Regions from separate parts of the Homo sapiens genome. Here region 1 is linked to region 2. Evidence: fine-mapped expression QTL. A gene starts in region 2. The other region holds a variant in brackets. All regions are shown on one strand. Distances are from middle to middle. Region 1 overlaps GPR84-AS1 (GPR84, ZNF385A, ITGA5 and GTSF1 antisense RNA 1). Region 2 holds the start of ATP5MC2 (ATP synthase membrane subunit c locus 2).

Region 1 (5,367 bases), 680 kb before region 2:
GGAGACACAGAAGGAAATCCTGGGGTCTAAGACCATAGAGGACAGATCTTAGCAAAAAAGCAGCCACCCGCCACGGCCCACACATCCACCCCAGCCCCTAATTTCAATAAGGGCTGAATGAGGGGAATGAAACTGAAGAAAAGCCAGGCTTTCTTGAGGCCTTCTCTCTCTTGCGGTTGTGCTTGGCGAGTGAGGCCATGCACTGGGTCCCTCGTGGTGCGTTGCTCATGCGTGTCTCGGGATGTGTGTGTGTTTGGAGGCCCTTTATGCTCACGAGTGTGAGTCACTGTCTGTCTCTCTTTGTCTCTTTATCTCTGTCAGTCTCTCGCCCGAGTCCGAGCTCTATCCCTGACTTTCTGACGCTATCTCTCACTGCCTCTCTTTGTCTCTTTCCATCTGTCCGTCTCTCCTGTAGGCTGTCTTCATCTCCTGTACCTCTGTTATCGCCTTTTTTTTTCTCCTAAGCTCGTCTCTCCAATCCCCGCTGCCGCGCTCCCCCCGCCCCCTCCCCAGTCGCCCGCCCGGGCTGTTCTTGCTCGTTCGCACGCTCTCTCTCTTTCGCTGTCTCTTACAGGCAGATTTATGGTCAGCCCAGGGCCTTTCATTGGCCAAGCGCTGACAGAACTTGATTTAACGCCGCCTCTCATTGGCTGAGCTTGACAGGCCGATTTACGAGTCACTCTACCATTGGCCAAACCACCTTGGCCCTGATTTATGGCTCAGCAGCCGCGGGGAGGGGGGTGCAGCTGCTAGGGAGTGAGGAGTGAGGATGCCCCTCCCCTCCCCTTCCCGCCGCGTCCCTCCTCCTCTCCCCCGCTTTTTTCCCCTCTTTCCCTCCCCTCAAGGAATGGCGCTCCCTCTACCTGTTCCTCAGGCCCCCTCCTCCCTTCTCTTTCGTCCACTGGGAGGGGAAACTGGGGTGTGGTGGTAACGGGAACTGAAGGGATGATGGGGTCTGAGGGTACACATGGGCCGAGGAGTCGAGTTTGAGGGGTGTGGATGGGGGCCGACAGGGAGAGCAGAGGAGACTGAACAGGGAGAGAGGATTCCGAGCTGAGGAACGAAGGGGAAACTGAGAGGGCAAAAGGATGACAGAAAGAAAGGAAGGTTGAGGAGAGAAGGAAGGCAGGGGAAGAGAGAGAGGGTTAAGGAGCTAAATGGGGGGTTGGGTAATTTGTCCAAGATCCGAGAAGAAAGAAGGAGAGATGAAGAGAAAGGACACATTTGAGGGGCCACACGGGCTGAAGCAGGGAAATCGGGCATCGAGAGAGGGACTTTTCAAATCTCACTATCCAGACTGAATAAGAGACGGAAATTTCCTTTTCACACAATGGCTCTGAAAAGGAAAAGCATTAGAGAAGCAAAGACAGAGAAAGGCGCAATAGGGAGGTGAGAGAGAGGGAGAAGCAGGAAAGGACAACTGGAAGGTAATAGCAAAGAAAAGAGAGAGGGAGAGCGACAGAGAACTAATGGGAAAGACCAGGAGGAAGGTAGGTTTTTGGTTTTTTGTTTGTTTTTAGGGGAGGGAGGAAAGGTGCCGTGAGAGAAGACTACTCCCCAACGGAAATATTGACAGAAAGGCTCCTCCTCCTCCCCTATGAAGACCCATTGGCGTCTGCAAGGGGACAGACGAGTCAGGCGCCTCCCCCAGGAGATATTCTGCTTCCTCAAGGCTGCAGTAAGCTCCCCATCCCATGCACCTCACTCCTCCCCTTGCCCACCTCCCCAGTTAAATTTATGAGTCCAGGGTGGCCTTCAGGAATTAGGAATATTTATGCTTCTTTGAGAGTGAGATTTAGAAGGTGATAAATAAGGGTCCACTGGGGGGTGCAGCTGGGGGCTCCTATTTTTAACATGGCCATTTTCCCAAGGCCCCACCCACACATTCCCTCTCCTCCTGAGCCAGAGAAGGAAGCACAGACGGAGGTGAGGAATGGGTTTCAGGTATCAGGAAGAGGGGTTGACTATCCTGTAGAGCCCCTCAGAGGACTGCAGAGCTTTGCAGCAGAAAGGATTGAAGGCAGATAGGGGAGGAACTTTCCAAGCATCCTGGCATTCGTATAGCCCCTAGTGTGCAGTTACAACATTTTTGCAGAAGGTGGGGAGAAGCCCATTTCCCCCCTGTCCCCTTAAGCTCAGTTGCTGAGGAATAGGGGAGATAAGCCAGAAAATTCAGAGGCAGATTTCTCTGGCCTGTCACCATCCTCACAGGAAAGGAAGATTTGAAATCCCCCACCTCCACAGACCACAGCCTGGATCCCTGGGAAAGGAGGCTAGGAATGTGGGGCTCAGGGCATCTCCTAGGAGTCTTGGCCTCCAACCTGCCCACCCTCACTGCTGCTGAGAATTAAAAACAGCCAATACTTCTTGACATCCCTTGCTCTGGGCCTCCAGGAAATTGAGAAGGGGTGGTGGATCTGCCTATGGATCCACATACCTTCTGCAGCCCTCAGCTCTAGAAGCCATGTGTCTGTGACCCCCCAACCCAGTGAAAGGGCTTGTTCTGGGTTTGGGTGGGTAGTGAACAAAGATGGAGGTCCATAATATAAGGGAGACCTAAGGAAAACAGAGCTGGGGAAGAGTCACACATCGCCCCCATCCCCCATGCCCTCCAACCGCTATGGCCTTAGCAAGGCTGGCCACAATGCACATGCGTACATACACTAGACTGCTGCCTGGAGTGGCAGGAGGGAGGGAAGGGTCTAGACTGGCCCTTTAAGAGCCACTTAGGGTCAGAAAGCTTGGGCTACAGAGAGGGGAAGGAGCTGATGTCAGAAGACGGATGGGCAGCAAGATGGGGATTGATGCTAATGGGGGAGTTAAAGCTAAGTACCCAGACACTCAGAGGGCAGAACTGCAGATCTGTCTTCCTTATGCTCACCCCCTCTCCAAACCAAGGCTGTAAATCTGCCTCTTCAACTGGGGGAAGGGGGACTGAGGAAAAAAGACATGCTCTCTTCTCCCCTTTCCTGTTTCTTCCTTACTTGGTGTGCCCACACCACCC[C/G]CCTCCACCCAATTCTTTTGTCCTCTCCCATTCTCTTGCAATCCACAACCCCTTCCCACTAAAATTTCCAATTTTGGGCTTTGCATCAGAAATTGACAGAATGGTTTCAGCTTGCAGAGGAGTTTAAGAGAGACCACAAGTTTTCCCTCACCAGACCCGGGTGGGAATGCTTGGTGGGATTGTGGTGAGAAACTGGTAGATTGGTAACTCCCAGATCCCTCAGTTTCTCATCCTTCCACTGTCTTCTCACTCGGAGGTAACTCTAGCAGCCGTCTTCCAGGACAATAGGGTAAAGGCAAGAAGCAGGAAGTTGGGTGCCAGGGGCTGGAAGGGGCATGAAAGATTCTGAGCTGGGTTTGTGGAGGCTTCTGACACACTGAGATTCTAGAGGGGCTGGTGGTGGGCTTCCAAGGGCAGCTAGAGAAGCTGCGGGAGCTGTCCACTGAAAGATATACAGTCTGGTTTCTCGGAAACTCCTGGATCATACTGTTCCCTCTCCTCAAGCACACACCCTGTCTGCTGAGTAGAGACAATTTCGGGCCAATAGTGTATTTACTGTAAAGGACCAGCTGCTCCTTGTACCTCTCAGGAGGGAGTTGGGGATCTTAGGGAAGAAGACTTTTTCAGAGGGGCTAGAGCTAGAATTAGCCCTTGGTAAATTTCATTTCTTTCTTCTTTCTTCAGGTGAGACTGTTTCTCCCACCTTTCAGGACCCATAATCACCCCTATTTCCTTTCCTACTGGCAACCAGGGCCTGTTCTTGAGAAGTCCCTCTCTATATTAGAGGACAGTCCCTCTCATCTGTTGCAGTATTAGGCCTGAACTCTTTCCCAGCCCTGGAAACAGTTGGTGCCTGATTGCCTCTAGTTTCCAAATCCTCTTCCATATCCATAAAAGAATAACCCTAAGATATCAATCTCATCTCTTCCTTTCTCCCAGGTTTTCCTTCAGAGGCCTAAAATCACCTCAGGGTCATACTCTTCTCTGTTTTCCAAGTCTTCAGAGACAAGGGAGAGAGGAAAGCTGGAGTGGGAAAATGGGGTTGTGAGCAGCAGCCACTGGAACCCAGCCTTCCAGCCTCCCGGCATCCGGCCTAGTGCTCCCTCCTATCTGAAGGAGGTCAGCCATTGCCCTCAGCCCTGGTCTCTGGCTACTTCTCAATACTGGTGATAAATCCTGTCTTTGTCTCCCCTCTGACCCAGGCCCCAGGCAGGCTGGGGGTCAGAGCTGGGGGAGGGGTCAGTGTGGAGGAAGGGGAGATACAAGGAGAATGGGGAGAAGATAGACAGGAGCAGCTGGTGGGCAGGCATGGGGGGTGGGCAGTGAGGGGATGGGGCTCTTCATTCTACAGATCCTGGACATTCCAGCAGGCCTGCATTCCAAGTGAGAAAGCCAGGATTGCCGAGTTGTGGAAATACCTTTGGAATGGTCCCTTGAGCATCTGGAATACTGGGAGATGGGGGGCTAGTATGGGGTGCCTCAAGGAAAGAGACTGCTGAAAGAAGTGGAAAAATATTGTGGAAATCATCCTATCCATACCGCAGACCCCTGTGCAAATGTGCCATGCGCACACACACACACACACACACACACACTCACACACACAGGACTTATGGCATGAGGGAGCCCCGGAGAGCCAGGCTGCCCTTTGCCTGGCCCCTCCCTAGTGGCCTTCTCTTGCTATGACTTTCCTGTTTCCAACTCTATTCTTTTTCTCTGCTCCCAGTCTTGCCTTCCTTCTTTGTGTCTCTCATTCTCCCAGTTTGTTATTCTCACCGTCTCTCAGCCTCTGCCTCGGTCTCTCAATCACTTTTTCTCTCTCATTTTGTTTCTTTCCATCTTCTTGTCTCCCTCTCGCCCCTCCCCAAATTCTTTGGACGCTGCTCCATCTGTCCTGTTTCTGCCACTCTTCAGCCCAGCCATCCCTCCTACCTCAGTCCCACCTCAGAACCCTGTTCTGACCCAGAGGATACCTTTGGGAGTTAAGATTCCAAGAATAGATGGAAAGGAGAAAAGAGGCTCTGAATGAGTCCCTGCTTTAGTGGGAGGTCTGGGAATCATACTGGGTTATGATATGGCACGGAAGGGCAGGGTGGGCAGAAGGTGACCAGAAAGAGAAGCACAACTAAGGGAGGTAGGGTGAAATGAGAGGGAAGAGATTGAAAAAGAAAAGGCATAGGCCGGGCATGGTGGCTCACACCTATAATCCCAGCACTCTGGGAGGCCGAGGCGGGCGGATCACCAGAGGTCAGAAGTTGGAGACCAGCCTGGCCAACGTGGTGAAATCCTGTCTCTACTAAAAAATACAAAAAAAAAAAAAAAAAAAGCTAGGCATAGTGGCACATGCCTGTGATCCCAGCTAC
Region 2 (5,322 bases):
AAACAGTCCATATAGGTAGCAGTGCAGAATTGAGTTGCAATGCCCTTAACTATAGAAGCAGTGATGATGATGGTGATGATGGTGGTGATGGTGGTGGTGGTGGTGGTGGTGGTGACGATGATGATTTTAATGCTAGCAATTACTGAACTCTTACTGGGTACCAAGTACCTTGCTAAAAGCTTCATATGTATTATCCCAATATTGGCTGTGTGATAAGTACTATTATTCTTCTCAATTTACATAGGAGGAAATAGATTTAGAGGGGGTTAAACAGCTAGCTCAAGATCACACAGCAATTTGGGAACCCAGATTTGTCTGAACGCAGAACCCATTATTCTATGAGGGCAAGGGAGTGTTAAACATCGCAGGCTGTAACAACTTTTGGAAAGAGCCAGCTTTAGCTTCCTCCCAGGCCCCTTCTCTGATCCTCCTCTGGGATTGTTAGCCATATCTGAGTGTCTAAATTGTCGCAACAGCTGCAACAGCCGTTTGGGGGTGGTGGCTCCTAAGAACTGTGGACTTTCTCTGCCACTGAGGATGTGAAGCTGACAGCTTAAAAGAATTCCGTTTTGGTGGGAATGGAGATGTCTGGAGACCTCAGGGGATAAACTTGTGTCTTTGCTAGCCTGTCTTTCTCCTAACAGCATCTCCACAGTGCCTGGCACCACTTGGTACTTGATAAATACCTGTTGATTGATTCCCAAAGATCCCAGTTCCATTTCCCACGTACCTGCCCGCTCGGGGCGCAATCAACAACTAAAACTGGAGATTTGGGGATTTCAGAGGAACCTGTGAGAATCCTGATGGAGCTGGAAATGCGAATTTAGGAAAGACAGGCAGTCTACCACCCTCCTCTTCTCGCCCGCTTCTCCTATTTCTCCCCACTCCTTCCCCTCCCTTTCAGGAGCTCAGGGCCATAAAAATGCAGATGGAGGATCGGTGTGAAATAACGGGCCCATATAAATCCCTCTGCCGCCCGCCTGCAAGATGGATTGGCCGCATTGAAATTCCTCCGCGAGGATAATTAAACTCGGGGCCTCATCCGGGCAAAATTACATTCCTGTAATGGCGTCGCTCGGGGTCCCGGGAAATTGCTCCGTGGGCTTTCAGCGGCGGTTTTTATCGCCGGCCGGGGTGTGCCTGTCTGCGGCTCGCCTCTCCTCCGGGACCGTAAAGCTGCTGCCGTGATTTATCCTCCCCTTCTCCCAAATCCGATTAAATGGAGGAGCTCGGGGCCGGGGCGCCGCGGGGCCCGGGAGCCGGGAGGGGGCGGCGGGAAGGACGGGGCCAAGGAGGGGAGGACAAACGGCCCCTCAGAGAGTGGCGGATTTGCCTTTATTTACAGCCGCGGCTTTCTTTTTATTTTTTATTTTTTATGGGGTTTGGTGAGCTTTTCCCGTCTTTCTCGTGCTGCGTTCAAGCACGATGCAGGGACGGCAGGGGTTTGGAACTGGATAGGCCTTGTCGCCCTGTTCCAAAGGGCAGGGCAGGTCCTGTCTGGGAGACAAGGAGGCCTAGGAAAGATGAGGGCCAGGAAGCCTCCCCCACCTCCTTCCATCAGGGGAAGGGCGAGCGAAAGGGGAGAGAAAACCCACGTTCAGGAGAGCATGGGGGCGGGAGGGGAGGGCGCTGCTTATCCCAACTCGCGTAGTTGAAACCTGAGCAGAGGCTCGGGCAAGCCTGGAGTGACCTCGCAACCTTACAGCGGGTCGCAGGTGCCCGTTATTCCTAGACTGTCCCAGGAGCCAGGAAAGAGGGATTCGGATCATATTTAACCCTATCTTCTGGCTCGCTGATGCTGCTTCTCTCATGGTTTATCACCGGAATGGAAAGGAGGAAACGGGGAGTGGGGGAAAGGGCGAAGCCACCAGAAGCAGCTGCGGCATTTTGCTGACTATTCGCCCATGGAGCCGGTTTGCCATCCAGTGATGCCAGAGTCCCGGCGCGACAGAAAGCAGGACTCCCAAGATCTTCCTCCTGCTGCATTTTAGGCACTGAACCCCAATCCCGACCGTATGTTAACACTGAATTCTGAGTAGGAGTTTTGTTTTGGCAGTGTGACGACTGCGCATGCTCGGAAAGGGGACGCAAGTCCGAGATCCCAAACGCGGTACAGACCAAACCGCAGTCCACGTTACGGATCGGCTTACTCCGCGGAGTTGGCCTCATTTCTGCAGTCGGCGCTCCCTGTAGTTTCTCCTCTCGAACGCCAGGTGGAGCAACCGGCCGGATACCGCCACAGCCCTGGCAGGCGGCGCTGTGATGCCTGAGCTGATCCTGTATGTTGCAATCACTCTATCCGTGGCTGAGCGACTCGTTGGCCCGGGTCACGCATGCGCTGAGCCTTCCTTTCGCTCTTCCCGCTGCTCCGCCCCTCTCTGTCTTCTCTGCAGTGGGAGCAGGTAAGGCCTTGGGACCTAGAGCCCTCTGTGCGCTGCGCACGCGCGCGGGACACCTCACCTTGCGCGGATGCTTTGAGGCGCTTACCTTGCGTGCTCCCACCCTGGTCCTCTCGCCCTTTCTTGCTTCCGCTATCCCTTAGCCTTAGAGTTGGCTCTTCCGCGTGCCGGTGACCTCCAACCGCGCGGGCCTGGCGCCATCTTGGATGTCTCGCAGGGGGAGGATACCTTGGAGCTGGCCAAAGTTAGATCCTGGAGTGCTGCTTTTCACCTGTTCCACCCAGTCCCTGCAAACACTCTTTTCTCGCCCTCTGGCCCTTTCAGATTGTGACAACCCCCAGGCTCTCCCCTCCTATCTCTGCTTTCTCTTCTCATCCTGACTTGTGCCTTCTTTATTCTGAAATCTCCAGACTTTAGGCCCCAGAACCTCAGGTGCTCCGAGCAATGGAGATAGTGGATCGTCTAAAGTCACCAATCCCTCTAGTCAGCACCCCTCAATTTAAAAAGTAAACCTTGAACATGGTAGAAGTGGGAAAAAAAGCCAAAACATCGCCTCCCGTTAGGTTGTGGCTTGGGATAGCTAAGGCAGAAGAGAGAGGCTGGTTGCTTTGGAATCACTAGTTATTTACCAGTACCTTTCTCGCATCCCGGCACGCTGGTGAAGTTGTAAAAGTCACAAATGGTGGGCTAGAGATGAGGGTTTCTGTTGAGGCAGCAGGCCCAGAAAGGTGGGGTAAGGCCAAGCTAGTGGGGCCAGCATGAGACCCTGCCTGCCAGCTTTCCTGTGAAGGATTAATTAACCTCCCCAGATTCTGCTGTTACAAGGAAAAGAAGGTTTAAGGAAAGGAATAGTTAAGTTACTACCCCTGTGACTCATCTACACTGAGGAAAAAGCCCGTGATGATTTTGGAGTCCTGATTCTGGATAGTGCCTTTGCCCAAGTTGTAGGCTAACAATTGCAGAGTTGCCATGGTTAGATAGCCAATGGTGGGATCACTTAATTGCCACCCCTTGTTGTGGGTTTATTATATGCCAGCACCACATTAAACTCTTTATGTATGTTAATTTGTAAATGAACATACTTAATCCCCCTAAGAGCTGCATTTTACAAAGAAGATAATAAGGTATAATTCCCTTAGAAAAGAACCACCCCTTCTTTTTCTAAAAGCCTTAAAGAACTATTGGATTTTGACCCAAGAAAACCTGAATAGTACGGCAGCAAAATTGGGTTAGAGTTACATATAGGCAAAAATCAGAGTTCTAGATAGGACAAGAGTTGAAGACATCCATTAACTTAAAAGTAATTAAGGCTGGGTGTGGTGGCTCACACCTGTAATCCCAACACTGGGAGGCCAAGGTGGGAAGATCTTTTGATGCCAGGAGTTCCACAATAGCCTGGGCAAAAAATAAATTAAGAGCAATTAAGATGTTGGATTCAGAAGTGTTTTAACCTGGGACAATCTGAGTTCAGTTCATTTAATGAAGTGGTATTTAATAGCCCTAAGCATTCACTGAGTATTTCAGCCTGTGACATATTAGAAAGCATGTAACTTAAAAGATCCAAGTTCAAGTCTATCCTCTACCACTACCACAGTTTCAAGACTGGGTTTAGGGTCACGCTCTTGCGTTAAGTATACCTAATAATCATCTGGGAAACTTGTTTGAAATACAGGGCACTTGAGCCTTATTCCCAGAGATCTTTTTTGTTTGTTTATAGACAGGGTTTCACGTTGTTGCCCATACTGGACAACTGGCGTGATCATAGCTCACTGAAGCCTCCAGCTCCTGGGTTCAAGCAGTCCTCCTGCCTCAGCTTCTGGAGTAGCTGGGACTACAGGTGCACTTCCACCTCACCTGGCTAATTTTATGTTTTGTAGAGATGAGGTCTTGATGTTTGCCCAGGCTGGTCTCAAACTCCTGGCTTCAAGTTATCTTTCCGCCCCAGCTTCTCAGTGTTGGGATTACAGGAATGAGCCACTGAACCTAGCTCCCCCAGAGATCTTGACCAGGAAGGTCCAAGTTGCGCCCAAGAATATGCATTTTTTAATACGTACACCACCCAGATAATTCTAGTTCAGATGGGCTTCTCACTTCACTTGGAGAAACCCTGCCTTTAGGTTTTTAACTCACCTTCTGTTTGAGGTAAGTTCACTTCTACCAACTTAGATACCTATAGGGTGTCAGATCTTCTTTAGATCTTGGGGAGACACAATTTAATACTTTTTTTTTTTTTTTTGAGACAGTTTCCCTCTTGTTGCCCAGGCTGGAGTACAATGGCGCAATCTTGGCTCACCGTAGCCTCTGCCTCCTGGATTCAAGCAATTCTCCTGCCTCAGCCTCCTGAGTAGCTGGGATTACAGGCATGCACCACCATGCCCGACTAATTTTGTATTTTCAGTAGAGACGGGGTTTCTCCATGTTGGTCAGCCTGGTCTCGAACTCCTGACCTCGTGATCTACCCGCCTCAGCCTCCTAAAGTGCTAGGATTACAGGCGTGAGCCACTGCGCCCAGCCACTAATACCTTTTGGATAGACTAATAACAGAGTTCCTCCTTGATCTTCCTCATCTTATTAATACAGGAAATTGAAGTATTTTCAGGAATCAGATACTTCCAGGGATCAGCAAAGAGATTGTTGGAGACCTTCCAGTGTCTTGGCCTTCAACAAATATCTCCCAAAACTACAAAGACTCTAAAGGGCAACTTTTTGTTTGTTTGTTTGTTTGTTTGTTTGTTTTGAGATGGGGTCTCGCTCTGTCACCCAGGCTGGAGTGCAGTGGCGTGGTCTCGTCTCACTGCAACCTCCGCCTCCTGGGTTCAAGCAATTCTCCTGCCTCAGCCTCCTGAGTAGCTGGGATTACAGGCGCGTGCTACCACACCTGGCTAATTTTTGTATTTTTAGTAGAGGTGGGGTTTCACCATGT

The links.
Region 1: its variant is fine-mapped to the expression of ATP5MC2 in adrenal gland (GTEx, PIP above 0.99).

What each region holds. Positions count from the first base shown.
Region 1 is chr12:54,354,560-54,359,926 of GRCh38, reverse strand. All of the region lies in intron 1 of GPR84-AS1 (GPR84, ZNF385A, ITGA5 and GTSF1 antisense RNA 1), which reads right to left. It also overlaps a transcript of GPR84 not described here. Among named protein-coding and RNA genes, the nearest start is that of GPR84-AS1, 3.6 kb to the right of the region's middle. RefSeq lists silencers at 301-480, 631-700, 711-950 and enhancers at 508-1,332, 1,333-2,157, 2,158-2,983. The variant C/G (reference allele first, on the strand shown) is at 3,005.
Region 2 is chr12:53,673,133-53,678,454 of GRCh38, reverse strand. ATP5MC2 (ATP synthase membrane subunit c locus 2) reads left to right here and starts at 2,372. Exons shown (of 5, transcript NM_005176.7): 1 at 2,372-2,402. RefSeq lists enhancers at 1,881-2,110, 2,221-2,670.